Regions from separate parts of the Homo sapiens genome. Here region 2 is linked to region 1. Evidence: fine-mapped expression QTL. A gene starts in region 1. The other region holds a variant in brackets. All regions are shown on one strand. Distances are between the middles of the regions.

The links. PIP is the estimated chance that this variant, and not a neighbour inherited with it, causes the effect.
Region 2: its variant is fine-mapped to the expression of ARID1B in whole blood (TOPMed, PIP above 0.99).

Annotation. Positions count from the first base shown.
Region 1 is chr6:156,773,080-156,781,750 of GRCh38, reverse strand. ARID1B (AT-rich interaction domain 1B) reads right to left here and starts at 4,373. Exons shown (of 20, transcript NM_001374828.1): 1 at 2,280-4,373. The coding sequence starts at 4,070. It overlaps MIR4466 (microRNA 4466), which reads left to right and starts at 2,020; the gene lies at 2,020-2,073. LOC115308161 (a long non-coding RNA gene) reads left to right here and starts at 3,233. Exons shown (of 2, transcript NR_163974.1): 1 at 3,233-3,505; 2 at 4,320-5,391. RefSeq lists silencers at 1,890-2,059, 2,090-2,779, 2,850-2,899, 3,120-3,349, 3,600-3,669 and 4 more and an enhancer at 2,621-3,156.
Region 2 is chr6:156,613,241-156,621,911 of GRCh38, reverse strand. No RefSeq gene overlaps it. Among named protein-coding and RNA genes, the nearest start is that of ARID1B, 160 kb to the left of the region's middle. The variant G/A (reference allele first, on the strand shown) is at 4,347.

The sequences.
Region 1 (8,671 bases):
TATTTCCATGATTCTTCTCTATAATGTTTTTCCTCGTGTGAATCAAAAACAAGTTGAAATCACAAGTTTTCTATTAAGAATAGAAAAATCTATTATCCTTAAAAGCAAAACTCCAATAACTAAAGATCTGAAAGCAGTGGACAGCAGTGTTCAGCCTAGGATTCACAAGATTATTTGTTAAATTCAGCCCTTCCTTCACTCTGACAAGTCTCTAAGGTATGATTATTGTTAAAATACCTCTTCCTAAAATAAATGAGTTACATAAAAATATACATACAACGACTGTTGTTCCTCTCTAACAGATTAGGATTTTTTAAACTTTCATAGCATTAACATGAAAGAAAAATTATTTGGAAAAAAAGACACCCAGCACAACTTGCTTAGAATATAGTTTCCCTAATTCATCGTGTAAGCAGTTCAAACAAGGCTCAAATTACCTAATCTAACAAAACAATGAAGAAAAAAAAAAGATTATGGGGCATTTCTGTATTCTCCACATCAAAAGCAAATATGAAATGATTCTTAGTATTTCACAGGAATATCTCATTTTTCCCCTTTTAATTATTGTTATCTGCACAAATATGTGGTTTCCTCATTTCGTTTTTTAAATATGTCAATTCTAACCAAAACTCCTCATCCACAAATATCTTTGAACAGTCAGAACTGATAAATCACAAAAAAATGAAGCTTAAATCTTGTTTATCAGGTGAATTACACATCACCAAAATATATTGCTGCCTATCAAAATCTTAAAAAAATTTTAAGGTTTTATTAAGCTGCGTGTGCTGACAGAATTCAAATTTTTCCATAGTTGAATTTGTAAAGGGAAGACTTTTATAAAGGCTTTACAAATCCAAAAATTGGTAAAATTCGTGGTTTACTTATTTTTCAATGGCCTTATCCTCAGCCTCCAATTAAAGTCTATGATATATGTAATGTGCATATTCTAAGACTATCATCAAAGATCTGAATTTTGTAAATGCCCAATACTGGACACCAGCGAACTGTTTTTCTGTATTTGATCCTCTTATTAATAACTATGATTCATAATAGTTTCAGCTTTAAATACTGAACCTTACATTTGCTTGTAATAGAGCTCAGTTATTATTTGTGGCAAGAATTTTTGTGACTGTACTGCTCAGCACTTCTATTTACATCAGCAGTGCTAAATGCCCAATGGTGAGAGGGGAGCCAATCAGATGGCAGATTAGATGTCAACTCAGAGGCAGCTGTCTGGAGACTATTACAGCCAGTTTACCTCCACAATTCAAATTCCAAACCTTGCAAAGGAGATCAAGTCAGTCTTTAGGCTCAGCCTACTAGCAAGAAACAGCAAGAGTGCAGGACACTTCCTAACAGCGCTGTAGGACTCGGGTGACAGCAAAATAAAGAAAATCCAAATAAATACGATCCCAAAAGATCAATTTTCACTGGTCTGCTATCTTACTGGATTTGCTGAATAAAATGCATGCCTAATCCATGATCAAAATAAGTTCAATTGATCCGGAACGTGCTCCTTTCACATAGCCTGCCTGTTGAAGGTGACTCCCTGCAAGCAGCCCGTAAGCCCAATAATGGATTTCCCTGGCTATTCTAAGGAACGAATCGATGTATTTTACAATATTGCACCTCCATGTCGTTGTAAATTTTGTTATTATTCCTACCAGCAAACGTTCGAGCTCGAAGCCCGCACCGAGTGTCTCTGAATGGCTCTCCCTAAGTAGGAAAAACCCACTCGCTTGTCACAAAGCTAACCTATTTTCCCTGCCTGGACCTCGGAAGCCAAGAGGGAACGTGCTGTGGCTAAAGGTGTGAGAAAGTTCCTCATTCTTTCCCCCGTTAAAGCACATTGTGGGCGCTCCCAGAACCGATCGGGTGGCTCTTCGCCCCAGCCGTCCTGGCCGGGAGAGCCTATTTGTTACAAAAGCACCCGAACGGTCCCCGCCGCCCCAAACGGCGACCGCGCGGGTGGCGCCTCGGGATCTCGCTTCGCGTTCCCGGGCCTGGGGGAGGGGGGGGACGCGGGTGCGGGCCGGCGGGGTAGAAGCCACCCGGCCCGGCCCGGCCCGGCGAAGCCCTCCCAGGCCTGGACAGCGCGCCGGCCCCCGGGGCGCCCCGACCGCGGCGGGAGGCGGCCGCCCGTCAAGATGGCTTTGGGCGCCGCGCCCCCGCCGCCCCCGCGGGAAGACGGGGAAAAGTACGCGGCAAAGAAAGAAACTCAGGCTCGCGGCGCGGCGAGGCCGCCGGGCGGAAGCAGGCCCGGCTGGCGCGAGGGTTACCTGGGATCTGCCCATGGTCGGTCCGGGGGTGCCGGGGCTCATCGCCGGGTGACTCCTTTGTTGCGCGGCCGCCCAGGCCGGGCTGGCAGCGGCGTACTGGGCGCCCATGTCCTTGCCCAAGCCCATGCCCGCGGCCGCCTGCTGGCCGCCCGCCGCCGCCCCCGCCGCCGCCGCCTGGGACTGGGGCTGCGACGGCGGCGGCGGCGGCGCGCTGGGGCTGCTGTACTCGGGGTAGCTGCCGCCGTAGCTCCGCATCATGGGGCTGGGCGAGGTGAGCAGCTGATTGAGGGTCGGGGTGGCCCCCGACGGGTGCTGGTTCTGGCCGGCGAAGCGCTGGAAGCCCCCCGCCGCCGAGCCGGCGGCCGCCTTGCTGAGGCTCGCGGCCCCGCCGCCCCCGGGGCCCATCATCATGCCGCCGCCCTGCTGCCGGGGGGAGCTCAGCACCCCGTACCCCGCGGACGAGCCCCCATAGCCGCCGCCGCCGCCGCCTCCTGCTGCTGCCGCCGCCGCCGCGGCCGCCGCCGCCACAGCTCCCGCTCCTGCTCCTCCTGCTCCTGCTCCTCCTCCTCCTCCTCCTCCTCCGCTGCCTCCTCCTCCTCCGCCGCCGCCGCCGCCGCCGCCGCCCGCGCCGGGCCGGCTGTAGCCCGGATAATGGTTGCACTGGCTGTTGGGGTACCCTTCGTGGGAGTTCTGCAGGGGGTCCATGCTGCCGGGGGCCCCGGCGGCGGCGGCGGAGGCGGAGTGCATCATCCCCATCCCGGGGCTTTGTTGTCCGCCATGTTGATCAAAGCAAGGCCCAGCGCGGCCGCCGGGGCCGCCGCTCGCAGGGGCAGCGCTGCCATAGTAATTATTAAACTCCGGGACGGCCGCCGGGCCGCCGCCGCCCCCGGGCACGGCGACCGGCGGCTGCTGCGTGCCCAGGGCGCCCAAGCCCGGGTGCTCGTAGCGGCCGCCCGCCGGCTCCCCCATCTTGGGCGGCGCGTCGTCCTCGTCGCCCGGCTTGCTCAGCAGCGGCGGGCCCGGGGGGTCGGCCTGGCCGCCCGCAGCACTGTCCTTGGCGCCTCCATGTTGCGGCTGCTCCATGTCGGGGCCGGGCTGAGGCGCGCCGCCGCCCGCGCCGCCCAAGCTGTTGTTGTTGGAAATGGGATGTTGCTGTTGCTGCTGCTGCTGCTGCTGCTGTTGCTGCTGCTGCTGCTGCTGCTGGAACTGGTTTAGCTGCTGCTGTAGTGCGTGGTGGTGGTGGAGGTGGTGGGCATGGTGGTGGTGGTGGTGGGCATGGTGGTGGTGGTGGTGCTGCTGGTGGGGCGGCGCGGCGGGGGCTTCGCCAACGGTTTTCAGTTTGTGGTTGGGGAGCAGCCCCGTCTCCATGGCCGAGCCCGGGCCCGACGAGGAGGAAGAGGATGCCGCCGCTGCCGCCGCGGAGGAGGAGGAGGAGGAGGACAGCGCGGCGGCGCTTCCACCCTCCTTGAGAGCCGCCTCGGAGCCGCCGCTCTTGGCGCTGTGGGTGCCGGCGGCGGCCGCGGCGCCCGCGTTATGGGCCATGTTGAGTTCGTGACGGGGGAGCAGGGGGTGGTGGTGCACACTGTTCAGGCCGCCGCCGCCGTCGCCGCCGCCCCCCAGCATGGGTCCCGGTGCCGCCGCCGCCGCCGCCGCGCCGCGCGCCCCCGCCTCCAGGTCCCGGGCTCCGGGCGCCGGCCGCGGCCCGGGGGGCGCCCGCCGTTCGCCGCTGCCTGCCCGCGCCCGCGCCCGCGCCGCCGCCGCCGCCGCCGCCGCTGCTGCCCGCGCGGCCATGATCGCCGCGGCGTGGCGAGGCCGGGCGGGGGGCGGGGGGAGACAATAACCCCCACTTTTCAGGCCGCGGCCCCTCCTGTGCGCATCCACGCGGCCCGCCGGGAAGCCGCGACCCCCTCCCCCTCCGCAGGCCCCGCCGGAGCGCCGGGCCGGGCACGCCTTACGCTCTGGGCCTGCTCCTGCTGTGTGCTTTCATGGTGAAAGTTTTTAGTTCAGGTTTAAATGAAACTTTTCTCTTTTCCTCTCTAGCCCGGATATGGGTAAATACACGACTAGCTGAGCCTATCGGGCCCAGCATGGCTTGAGAGGCAGCGGGCGAGCTCGAGCAACTATTATCCACTTCGCTCGCATTACTCCCGCGCACTCGCAAAACGCGGACTGGACTCGTCCCCGGGCCGCCGCCGCCCGCCCCGGCGCAGCCTCGCGGGACCCAGCCGGGCTTGGGCTAAGGCTGGGGCCGGGGCCGGGGCCGGGGCGGCTCGGCGGCCGCTCGGAGCGCGGCGGCGTGGGGCGGCCGGAACCTGCACTTTCCCCCCGGGCCGCTGTCTCCTTGCCAACCGGGCGTTCGCATGTTTGTTTTCACGTCTAAAAGGAACGATACAAAGGTGGAAAACGAGTCTGACGAGCAGACAAAAGAGGGAGAAGGGCTGGGAAACAAAGTTGTCTATTGGCCTCAGAGGTTACAAGGAGCCGACGGAGAAAGAAAATATTTAGGCAATCTGCAAAAGCACGGTCTCTCCCAGGAGTTATGTAATTTTCAGAACGTTCGCCTCTGCCTTGATTTCGGGCCATCGGCGTAATTCCCACAACTTCTTCCAACTGCAAAATTAGGAAAGATTTGAAATGAAGGTTAGCCCCGGTCAGAGAGCCCTATGGCCTGTACCCAGTAGGTACTCAATAAATGCTTATGACTGACTGCACCCGCCCCAAAGAGAATGTTTACATAACTCTTTTTGAAGGCACCTTAAACACGTATGTAGGTTTGTCAGTGTATTTCCAAAGGAATATGTCCACGTATTCCCAAAGGAGCATTTTTCTTACATGCACTTGGATGTCCTCTGTGGAGTATGTACAGTGGTGTTTTCTGCGCCAACTTTCACATGAACATTTAACTCTTGGTGCCAGAACAGCGACAGCTATGGGTTAGCTCGTATCTTCATAAATCTATATGACACCTTTCATCATGTTTCAGAGCTTCGTGTGCACAGTTAACCCTCTCGATATACATTCATTTCAAAGAGATGTGGAACGAAACTAAAATATTATAGACATTATATTTAATAAATATAACTTCAATAATAATATAAAACAGTCAACTCTAGTCCTAATGTAGAAATGTTCCATACTTTGTTCTCTTAAAAATTGGTGTCTATTAACATTTTATAATGTTTTTAATATTTGCATTGTTATTAATGTTTTCAATATGTGCATTGTCCCCTAGTAACATTTTAAAAAGCAAGACTTCTTAACCTTAGGCAATGACCCACTTGTACTAGTGTGGACTCAGTTTTCATTGAGAGAAAGCATTTAAAACCTGGCAGAAACAATACTTACGGTTTTGGTAGAGTATAGTTTTCCAAAATTATTTCATTCTTCAGCTTTCCATAAAAACTATTTTAGTTCATTTCCACTGCAGCAGTGGTTATTTGTTTGACCAAGTGTAAATATGTTACATGACTAAATAGAAAAGGATTGATGGGAAAACTGGTGACTAATTGGGGTCGGGGGGAGGGAATCAGGTGCACACCCAAGGGTCATTATAGAGTGTAGAAACAACAAATTGCAATTCTACGCAAACAACTGGAAAACGGGATATATCATCGTGTGTTAGAGAGAATAACAGAACCATAAGATGAATTCGTGCCAAATCATTCATCAGTTTTTGCCAAGAGAATACTACATCTTTGTTAGTGTGCCTTTTTGACATTTTTTCCTGGATTTTCTCCCTTTATATATTCAAATACATACTAATTATACGCATTACACCACAGAAGTTGAATTTTTAGTTTTTCATATGCAAATATAAATATATGTCTGTTTTGTGTGTATATACATATATTCTAAAATCAATTACATATTTATGCTTTTAGACATAGTCAAACTAAGTATGTACACATCATCCTAAAAGTGCATTTTTTCAAATTGATAAAATATATCAAAGTCAGTTCATACAAGTGTAGCCATATGTTGTGGCTTATTTTCACAACTAATCCTAAAAGGGAAAATGAGTCACCAAGTTCAGCTATGGCCCTTTTCCTTAAAATATTTTTTCATATTGGCAAATCGTGAAACTAAAAAAAAATTAGTAGAGAAGTCAAAATCTCTTTTAATTCCATTTGCTTCAGCAAGTCAACTAGAAGATTGGAACTAAGAGACTATAAAATAGAGGCCCCCAGCACAATGAAATCAGTCTGCTATAAAAGGCGACACATGCCAGTTTTTCCTCCCCAATGGCAGATGCCACACCCTAAAGCAGACAGAAGGCACTGCAGCCTGTAGGAGAAGCACAACACAAAGCCGGCAGGACTTGGTTTTGTCTTTTAAACCACGGAGAATGCTAAAATACCTTTCTAAAGCATCTTTGCTGAAGATAAGAAGTGCACTCGAATTTGCTCAACTTTTCATACACACCTCAGGAAAACAAAATAAAAGCCTGTTTAGTTTCATTTAAACATCCAGGGCTTAACAAACAAAACACCAATTGTCAGGGGTCTGTTACAAAGTGATGAAATAGGTTCCCATTACACAAAAGCACAATTTCAACCACAGGTTCAAATTTCCATTGTGTTCCTTGCCTCAACTATCTCATATGGCAATTCTACCTTATTGTTTCTTTTTGATGAAATAAGGTACTAGAAATCACTGCGCTCATTTTTCCTAATGAATTCCTTAATTTTACACCTCTTGCCTAAATTTCAAACCACAATGACAACTTTAATAAGTTACCCTAACCACAAAGAAGCCATGAGGGGAAGGCCCGGAGGCTGCCCGCAGCCACCCTGGGTTCCAGCCGACCTCCCACCCACAGGGTGCTCCCCACGCCCTCATGTTTAGCCAGAGGATTACCCATTATTTTGTTAAACATTCCTTTTTGGTTACAAAAGACTTTTTTTTTTACTGTATGGAAATATTAATATTCAAATACTGCGCCTTTTGAATAAGTTTTAGGGCACTGAATAAAAGGCTCTTCAACTTGGCCACTTAAAGGGGATTGAGCCAGATGGTAGTTTAAGAATTCCACAGTTCTGTTCTTTTTGCCTCATCGTAGCCCATCATACTCTGTTTGCTTTCAGATTAGTCCCCTTTTACTGTTCTACTTATTTATTCGATGACTGAAACTATCACGATTCACTGCCCATCATATTTCTAACTATTCTTTATGTAATTTGGAAGCAATTTAGAATAAAGCCCTGTCAAGGTTTTACAAATAAGAACTATTAAAGAATAAAGCTTTGGATACTTGCTTTCCTTTTAGATTTATGAGAAATGCGATGAATAGAGCTAATGGGATTTCCCTACTGATCTTGGTCAGGGACTTAAGAAAGCACGAAACAATTGTCCTTTTCACTTCTCCGATTTAGACGTTAGCAGTGAATAACTGCGTCACTGCAAGATATGGGATGTAGCATTTGATTTGAAACAACTGTGCAAATCAATTAGGTAGGATTTGAAAAAAAAAAAGAAGCCTAGGCAAAAAAAATAGTTCAAATTTGGGAACTATGGCAGACGGTAGCACTAATAAACTTACTAAGAAAATTATTGTGGGGATAATAAACCTGGATGGAGATACACTGCATGTAGTCATTCAACAAATTTACCTAGAGTCTACCTTGTGCCATGCCTTGAAAATGAAAGATAATTACCTTGGTCCTGTCCTTCATAGGGGAGATAAACAATTAACAATCACTCATACCTACTAAGGTCTGCCCCTCAATGTCACATGGGATTTGGCCAGTAAAGAAGCAAGCTCAGACCTTCCCCATCCCGCAGCATTTCCTGCAGCGGAGGCTTGCTGGCTGCCATTAGCGGGCAGCTGACCCTAATCCTCCCGCTGACACAACTCCGACTTGACACCTGGAACCCACCACTGTGGAGTCTGGACTTCCAGAACCTTAAGTTTAACATCAGGCTACTACAGTTTCTCTCCAAATTCCTTAGAAACATAGTAACACCAGTGAAATACATTAAGAAACACCTTACTACATTTTAATACATTGTACTTTTTATTTTATCCTGGACTGTCCGCTTTTGAATGACTTTATCACAGCCTCATTTATAAATTTCTTGTAACTTTTAGACAAATGTGTGTTCAATGGCTGCTTTTATTTCCAGTACTGTCCTCAATCATTTTGCCATTAGTGAAAATCACTTACTGAGCACCTACCAGTGTTTTTCAGTATTCTACATCACATCATGTAGTCATCTTTGTGGCCGTTCTTAGTGATAACATGCTGCCTGGCTGGCTAAAGGTCCTGCATAGGTAACTCCACTCTAGTTCCTCAAAATAAATATTTGGGTAGTAAGCATATATAATCAGGTATACAAATAAGTCACTTGGCAGTTGAATCACCTCAGTTTTCTAGAAAAGTTTCAGGAACTTA
Region 2 (8,671 bases), 160 kb after region 1:
CCTCACAACCTAATGGCATAGATATTACTGGCTTTTTATAGATGGAAAAACTGAAGATCAGACTGGCTAATGTCTTGTCCAAAGTCACACACAACCAGTAAGTGGCAAAGCTGGGACGGAAACCCAGTCCGGCTCCAGGTCTGTGCGTTGATTCACTCCTGCCATGGGCAAGGAGGGCATAGATGCTAAACTCTGAAAGCTCAACCAAAGTCAAGATTCACTGAAAATTTGCTGAGTGTCAAGGAGGGTGCTAAGTATTTTACATACATTTGTTACTTTTTCTGTATTTCAAATTTCTCATTTTGCAAAATTTAAGACACACAAAAGTTGCAATAATAGTATAAAATATTCCTGTGTATTCTTCACAGACTTACCAAATGCTAACATTTTACTACACTTCTCTCTCATTCTCTCTTTCTCTCTCCATATGTATATATGTTGTGTGTGTGTTACATACACACACAACATATATATATGAAACATTTGAGAATAAGTTGCAGACATGATGCTCCTTTACCTCTAAATACTTCAGTGTGTATTTCCTAAAACAAGGTCATTTTTTTCCATGACCAGTACAATAACCCAAATCAGAAAACTAACATTGATACAAGAGTATTTGCTGTGCTAAAGATCTCAGAGTTTTCCAGTTGCCCCACTAATGTCTCTTTTTGATCCGTGATTGAATCCAAGATCACACCTTGTATCTAGTTGTCATGCATCTTTAGCCTCCTTTAATTTGCAACAGTTCCTTGTTCTTTTTTTGTTTTTTTTTTTTTGAGACAGAGTCTTGCTCTGTTGCCCAGGCTACAGTGCAGCAGCATGATCTTGGCTCACTGCAACTTCCACCTTTTGGGTTCAAGTGATTCTCATGCCTTAGTCTCCCAAGTAGCTGGGACTACAGGTGTGAGCCACCATGACCAGCTAGTTTTTGTATTTTAGTAGAGACGGTGTTTTGCCAAGTTGCCCAGGCCAGTCTCAAACTCCTGGCCTCAAGTGATCCACCTGCCTTGGCCTCCCAAAGTGCTGGGATTACAGGCGTGAGCTGCAGCACCTGGCCTGTTTCTCATTCTTTGTCTTTCATGACTGTATTAGTTTTCTATTGCTGCTGTAACAATTTACCATAAAATTAGTGTCTTTAACAACAAAAGTTTATTACCTTACAGTTGTGTCGGTCAGAAGTCCAAGATGGTATCCCTGGGCTTAAAAAAAAAAGGTGTGGGGAGGGCAGAATTCCCTTCTGGAGGCTCTAGGGGGTGGGGAATCTGTTTCCTTGCCTTTTCCAGCTTCTAGATGTCACCTGCATTCCTTGACGTGTGGCCCATTTCTCCATCTGCAGAGCTATCAATGGCTAGTTGAGTTCCTCTCATGTTGTTACGTCTGTCTGACCTCTGACCACCGCTGGGAAAGCCCCTTTAAGGCCTCATGTGATTAGATTGGGTCTGCCTAGCTCATCCAGGGTAATCAGTACATCTATAAGAATGCTTTTGCCATGCATGCTAACTTCTCCACAAGTTCCAGGTACTATTGGGGTCATTATTCTCTCTGCTGCTGTAACTTTGACATTTTTGAAGAAGACAGGCGAGTTATGTTGTGCACTCTTTCTTGATCTGAGTTTATCTTGTGTTTCCACATGCTTCGATTCAGGGATGCTGTTATGGTTTGGCTGTGTCCCCACCCAAAGCTCCTCTTGAATTGTAGCTCCCCCACTGTCCACATGTTGTGGGAGGGACCCAGTGGGAGGTAATTGAATCATGGGGGTGGGTCTTTCCTGTGCTGTTCTCATGATAGTGAATAAGTCTTATGAGATCTGATGATTCTATAAGGTGGAGTTTCACTGCACAAGTTCTCTTCCCTTGTCTGCCACCATGTGAGATGTACCTTTCACCTTTTGCCGTGATTGTGAGGCCTCCCCAGCCATGTGGAACTGTGAGTACATTAAACCTCTTTCTTTTGTAAATTGCCCAGTCTTGGCTATGTCTTTATCAGCAGTGTGAAAATGGACTAATCCAGATGCAATGTTGGCAGGTGGTTCTGCTGCTGTGTTCTCAATCCTGTGTGTCAGGAGGAGTGTGCTACGCCTCTGTCCATTAGTGTGGGTGTCATTAATTTTGATCCCTTGACTAGGGTGATGTCTGGCCATTTCCTTCTCTGTAACGTTAGTATTTTTCACTTTGTAATTAATTGGTATCTCTTGAAGAGATTCTTTGAGGCTATGTAAATATCTGCTTCCCAGCCTACTTTCTATCCTACCTTCACCCACTAGTTTTAGCATTTGTTGATGATTCTTTGCTTGAAACAATTATTACTGTGGTGGTTGCCAGATGCCTACATTTTCTCATTTAATCTACAACCACGAGATGGGTAGTGTTACTGTCCTAATATCACAGATGGGGAAATAGGCTTACGTAAATTAAATAAGTTTTCCAAGGTCTTACGGTTAAGTACGGTGGAACCACAATGTGGAAGTTTCAAGGCACATTTCACTGACCTTCCTGGCCAGAAAGGTGGTTGGTAAGATGCGTTGTAGCTGTTCTCAGAAAAAATAAATTAGAAAGTACAGTGGACTTTATTCAATGTAATTCTGCATCAAGTTGAATCCATCTATCTTTTTGGAAAAACAACTTTCATGATGACAAATTCTCGGAATAGAACAGTGGAAATGAAGCCATGGTCAAAACTGTCAACTCTGAGGAGGTTCTTTCTCAAGGAGAGGCAAGTGGCACTTCAGCTGAGCCCCCGTTTGGGCGTCGTTCCATCATTGACCTCAGGGTGCGCAGGCAGGGCTGGCTTATAAGGGAGCTATGCTAGAAAACAGCTTGTCTGCTGCTTTTGGTAACAGAACCCCCCTGGAAGGGCTCCAGCATGGGCTTGTGTGAGATCAGATTTCACACTCCAGTGAGTGAACTCCTCAAAGTCCCAGTTAATTTGTATTAAGCACCCAGCTTTCTTTTCCCACTGAACTCCCTTGAGCCCTCTCAACCAATCAAAGAGACGTGGCATGCAAACAAGCCACTTGGAGGGGTTTCTATGACCAATAATCTAAGGCCCAAGCAAACTGGGTTCTGGCCAGCTCTGTACAGAGGCACTCCAAAGCTTATCGGTGGCGAAGCTACGAGAGGAACCGAGACTGTCATCGCTGGGGTCCCTGCAGGACTGCGCTGAGTGCCCTCCAGACCCTTTTAAGGAAAATAAATTTTACCTCTGCTTCTTCTGGTTCTGTTCTCCAGACTGAGCTTAATGAGTAACTCATCGCCACAAAATGGGGTAATTAGAAGCAGGTGATCTGGGATAGTGCCTGGGCTGTGGGTTTTTTGTTTCTCACTTGAGACTGGAAATTAGGAGCCCGGGATTCTTTCCCCACGAATTCTGTGCCACCAGAAAATAATATTTTATTTCCTAGCATCTGAAACGTAGTCGTGCATTAGGACTAATATGTTTGTGATGCTCTCTGAGCAGCCCAGAGCAAGGGGCTACTGTACAAACCCAGCAGCACTCTGTCTGCAGAACAGATGGCTATGGTAGTAAAAATGTAACAAGCTGAAGACACCCTGACTTTGTCGTATTAGATCATGTGTGCTGGTAAATCCTAGGTCTCTATACTACACACTTTAAGAGAAAATTGACTAAATGGCTTCTGAACTTTGTTAAAATAAACACAACAAAATACAAAGGTGCTTGATCTAGCTGCCTTTCTACAAGTGGCTTCCTAACATGAAGTAGCTATTCCTAGAGTCACAAAAAACCGAAGGCTCACACATAGAGAGTCGTACAAGCAAGAGAGGAGTGACATTTCAAGGGGGCGTTCAAGAATAGTTGGAGTGCCTTGGACTCTAGTGAATTTAAAGTTCCCCAGAAGACTTGATCCTTACATTTTCTAGGGAAGGTGATGGCATTGCTTTTCTTTGCAATGTATTCTATGACAGTGTGAATTCTTTGTGGGCAGGCCTTCTACCTTTGTATCATCCTTGCCTGGTTTAGTCCCTGACACACGGTAAGTGTTTAATAAACGCTAGTTGAATGAATATCAAAGTGATTACAATTCCTCCACTAAGTCTGTTCTTCTCATTTATCAACCTTAATATCTTTTCTTGCAAATGGCATACTTACTTCTTTCTTTGAAATTGAGTAGAACGATTCACGTTACTCAATGTAGAGGGTAGGTCTATTACAGCTTCTCTGCCCACAGCTTTTCCTGCTGTAAACGGCCGTGCACCATTAGAATCCGCCACTCCTCCTGGCCTTGGGTGATAAGGGCGGGTGCGTTCCTGACTCTGCCCTGTCTGGGAACTTAAGTCTTGCATGGCTTGGCTCTTTGCCAGTCATTTGGAATTAGGAAATGAGAGAGA[G/A]TGCTGCCGGAATGCAGGCCATGTAGACTTTGGTCTGCGGGCGCTGTCTGGGGCCCTGGCACACTAATGATGCACCTAGGAAGCTGGTCTACAGGAAGGAGAGTGGGGCAGTGAGCAGCGGAAGATGGATGGAATGTTGTGTGGCCCTGAGAGGCAGAAAAAGGGACTCAGTTCCCAAGGGCATCAGGAATGCTACCTGCACATGGTTTCTTGGATTCTGAGAGATGTTTCTTGTCCTTAAATTCCTCTCCTTTCTGCTTGAGCTTACCTCGGTGAAGAGCATTCTTCCCACATCCCATTATCTTGTTCTAAAGTGTAAACAAATTCTTATCTTAACCTCTTAAAAAAGTCTGTATGAGCTCCTGGCCACTGATTTGAATGGAAGGAGTCTCTTTCCAAAACTTTCAAGTTTCCTTTGTTCCTTTGCTGTAGCCTTTCCTGTATTCTTGTCCTTCACTTCTGAGTGGGTATCCTGAACAGAACACGATGCTGCTTCTTTAAAAAAATTTTTTGTTTGTTTGTTGTTCAGAGACAGGTTCTTGCTCTGTCACCCAGGCTGGAGTGCAGTGGCGTGAAACATGATGCTTCTAATAAAAGTCTGACAAATGCTGTTGAGAGTGAGAAGAGTACCTCAAAATCCTGACGCACTTATGTGTTGTTTATATTACCCACAGCCAGGATTAAAAAAAATTACTGGATTCTCAAATTAGAAAATATACTTTATTTTCAAATACATAAAAACCATTAAAAAATAATTTTCTCTCTCTATCATCTATCATCTAATTATCTAGTATCTATCCATCTATCTGTCATCTATGTATATATGTAATGTATCTATCTATCTATCATCTGTCTATCATCTATCTATCTATCCATCCAACCCCTTGGTAACTATGCTGTTCTCCATCCTTCTGCATCCTTCTATGTGAATCTTCTACATCCTTTCTTTTTTTTTTTTTTTTTGAAATGGAGTCTCCACCTAGGCTGGAGTGCGGTGGTGCAATCTTGGCTCACTGCAACCTCCACCTCCTGGGCTCAGGTGACTCTCCTGCCTCAGCCTTCTGAGTAGCTGGGATTACAGGTGCCTGCCACTATGCCTGGCTGATTTTTGTAGTTTTAGTAGAGATGGGGGTTTCACCACGTTGGCCAGGCTGGTCTAGAACACCTCACCTCAGGTGATCCACCCACCTCGGCCTCCCAAAGTGCTAGGATTATAGGCATGAGCCAACATCCCTGGCCCTTTCTATTTTTTATTCTGCTTAATCTACCAAACATTCAGAGAGACGTGTGCTAGAATCTCCCACCATGTTTTTCAATCAGTCTATTTTTCCTTATAATTCTAACAATTTAATATATTCTGAGGTTGTTTTATTAAATTAATAAAAGTTTAAGATGGGAAGATTTTCCCCATGAGCTTTCCCTTTATCACTGTGTAGTGAACATCTTTTCCCTGGTTAAGCTTTTCGTCTTAACATTGTGTTGTGTTGCCTTATATTATGTAACAATACCAGCCTACATTTGGTGTGTATTTATTTGACATGTTTTTTTCTTTTCTTTTTCTTTTTTATTTATTTATTTTGAGATGGACTCTCGCTCTGTCGCCTAGGCTGGAGTGCAGTGATGAAATCTTGGCTCCCTGCAACCTCTGCCCCCCGGGTTCAAGTGATTCTCCTGCCTCAGACTCCCAAGTAGCTGCGATTACAGGTGCCTGGCACCATACCTGGCTAATTTTTGTATTTTTAGTAGAGAGGGGATTTCACCATGTTGGCCAGTCTGGTCTCAAACTCCTGACCTCAAGTGATCCGCCTGCTTTGGCCTCCCAAGGTGCTGGGATTACAGTCATGAGCCGCTGTGCCCGGCCGGCATGTTTTTTCTCTATTTCTTTATTTATAACGTTTCTTTACTAGTATGTTTTAAACATATCTCTTATAGAAACACATAGCCAGATTTCGATTTTTAAAAAGTGATTGAAGAATCTTTCTTCTACCTGGTAGATAGAGATCTATTATGATTACAGATCAATTTTTCCTTTTCACTTATTCTACCTTTTCTTTGCTTTAACTTCCCTATTATCCACTTTATTGGTTAATTTAGTTTTCACTCTTTTTTCCTCCCTGCACTTCAATTTCACTGGAAGCTATGCATACTATTCCTATTTTTTTTTTTTCTGATTATCCTAAAAGTGTAACATGATACTTCATATTCGTGTCAAGGTAAGTGTTATTTACATACTTCCTGACTAATAACTTAATACTTGACTAACATCTTAGAATATTTTAATTTCAACCACTCTTCCCATTTGATATGGTTTGGTTCTGTGTCCGCACCCAAATCTCATCTCAAATTGTAATTCCCAGGTGTCAAGGGAGGGACTAGGTGGATCATGGGGATGGTTTCCCCCATGCTATTCTCATGATAGTTAATTCTCATGAGAGCTGATGGTTTTGGCAGTTTCCCCTGCACTCTCTCTCTCCTGCTACCATGTTAGACCTGCCTTGCTTCTCCTTCACCTTCTGCCATGATTGTAAGTTTTCTGAGGCCTCCCCAGTCATGTGGAAATGTGAGTTGATTAAACCTCTTTTGTTTATAAATTACCCAGTTTCACTTAGTATCCTTATAGCAGTGTGAGAATGGGCTAATACAGAAGATTGGTACCAGCAGAGTGGGATACGCCTGTAAAGATAACCTGGAAATGTTTAGCAATTTTGGAACTGGGTAACAGGCAGAAGTTGGAATAGTTTGGAGGACTCAGAAGAAGACAGGAAGATGTGGGAAAGTTTGGAACTTCCTAGAGACTTGTTGAATGGTTTTGACCAAAATGCTGATAGTGATATGGACAATGAAGTCCAGACTGAAGTAGTCTCAAATGAAGATGAAGAACTTATTGAGAAATGGATTAAAGGTCACTCATGCTATATGCTTTAGCAAAGAGACTGGCGGCATTTTGCCTCTGCCCTAGAAATCTGTGGAACTTTGAACTTGAGAGAGATTATTTAGGGTATCTGGCAGAAGAAATTTCTAAGTGACAAAACATCCAAAAGATAACCTGGCTTATTCTGAAAATGTTCAGTTATAATATATAAATGTTCAGCATTGACAAAGACTTGGTTTGAAATTGGAACTTATGTTTAAAAGGGAAGCAGAGCATAAAGGTTTGGAAAATTTTTAGCCTGACCATGTAGAAGAAAAGAAAATTCCATTTTCTGGGGAGGAATTCAAACTAGCTGCAGAAATTTTCATAACTAATGAGGAGTTGAATGGTAATAGCCGTGACATTGGGGAAAATGTCTTCAGGGCATGTCAGAGAACTTCAGGGCAGCCCCTCCCATCATAGGCCTGGAGGCCTAGGAGGGAAAAATGGCTTCCTGGGCCCAGCTCAGGGCCCCACTGCTCTGTGCAGCTTTGGGACTTGGTACCCTGTGTCCCAGCCACTCCAGCTCCAGCCCAAGCTAAAGGGGCCAAGGCACATCTCAGGTTATTTCTTCAGAGGGTGCAAGCCCCAAGCCTTGGTGGCTTCCATGTGGTGTTGGGCCTGTGGGTGTACAGAAGACAAGAGTTGAGGTTTGGGAACCTCTGCCTAGATTTCAGAAGATGTATGGATTCTCTTGGATGTCCAGGCAGAAGTCTGCTGCAGGGCCAGAGCCCTCATGGAGAACCTCTCCTAGGGCAGTGTGAAAGGGAAATGTGGGGTTGGAGTCCTCACACAGAGTCCACATATGGGCACCACCTAGTGGAGCTGTGAGAAGAGGGTCACAGTTTGCCAGACCCCAGAAAAGTAGATCCACCAATAGCTTGCAACTTGCTCCTAGAAAAGCCACAGGCACTCAATGCCAGCCCCTGAAAGCAGCTGCAGGGGCTGTACCCTACACAGCTATAGGGGTGGGGCTGCCCAAGGCTGTGGAGCCCACCACTGCACTGGTGTGCCCTGGATGTGAGACATGGAGTCAAAGGAGGTTTTGGAGCTTTAAGATTTAAAGACTGCCTGGCTGGGTTTTGGACTTGCATGGTGCCTGTGATCCCTTTTTTTTTTGGCCAATTTCTCCCAGTTGGAATGGGAACATGTACCAATACCTGTACCCCCATTATATCTTGGAAGTAACAGTGATTTTACAGGCTCATAGGTGGAAGGGACTTGCCTTGTCTCAGATGAAACTTTGGACTTTGACTTTTGGGTTAATACTGAATTAAGACTTTGAGAGACTGTTGGGAAGGCATGATTGGTTTTCAAATGTGAAAAGGACATGAAATTTGGGAGGGGCCAGGGGTGGAATGATATGGTTTGGCTCTGTGTCCCCACCCAAATCTCATCTTGAATTGTAATCCCC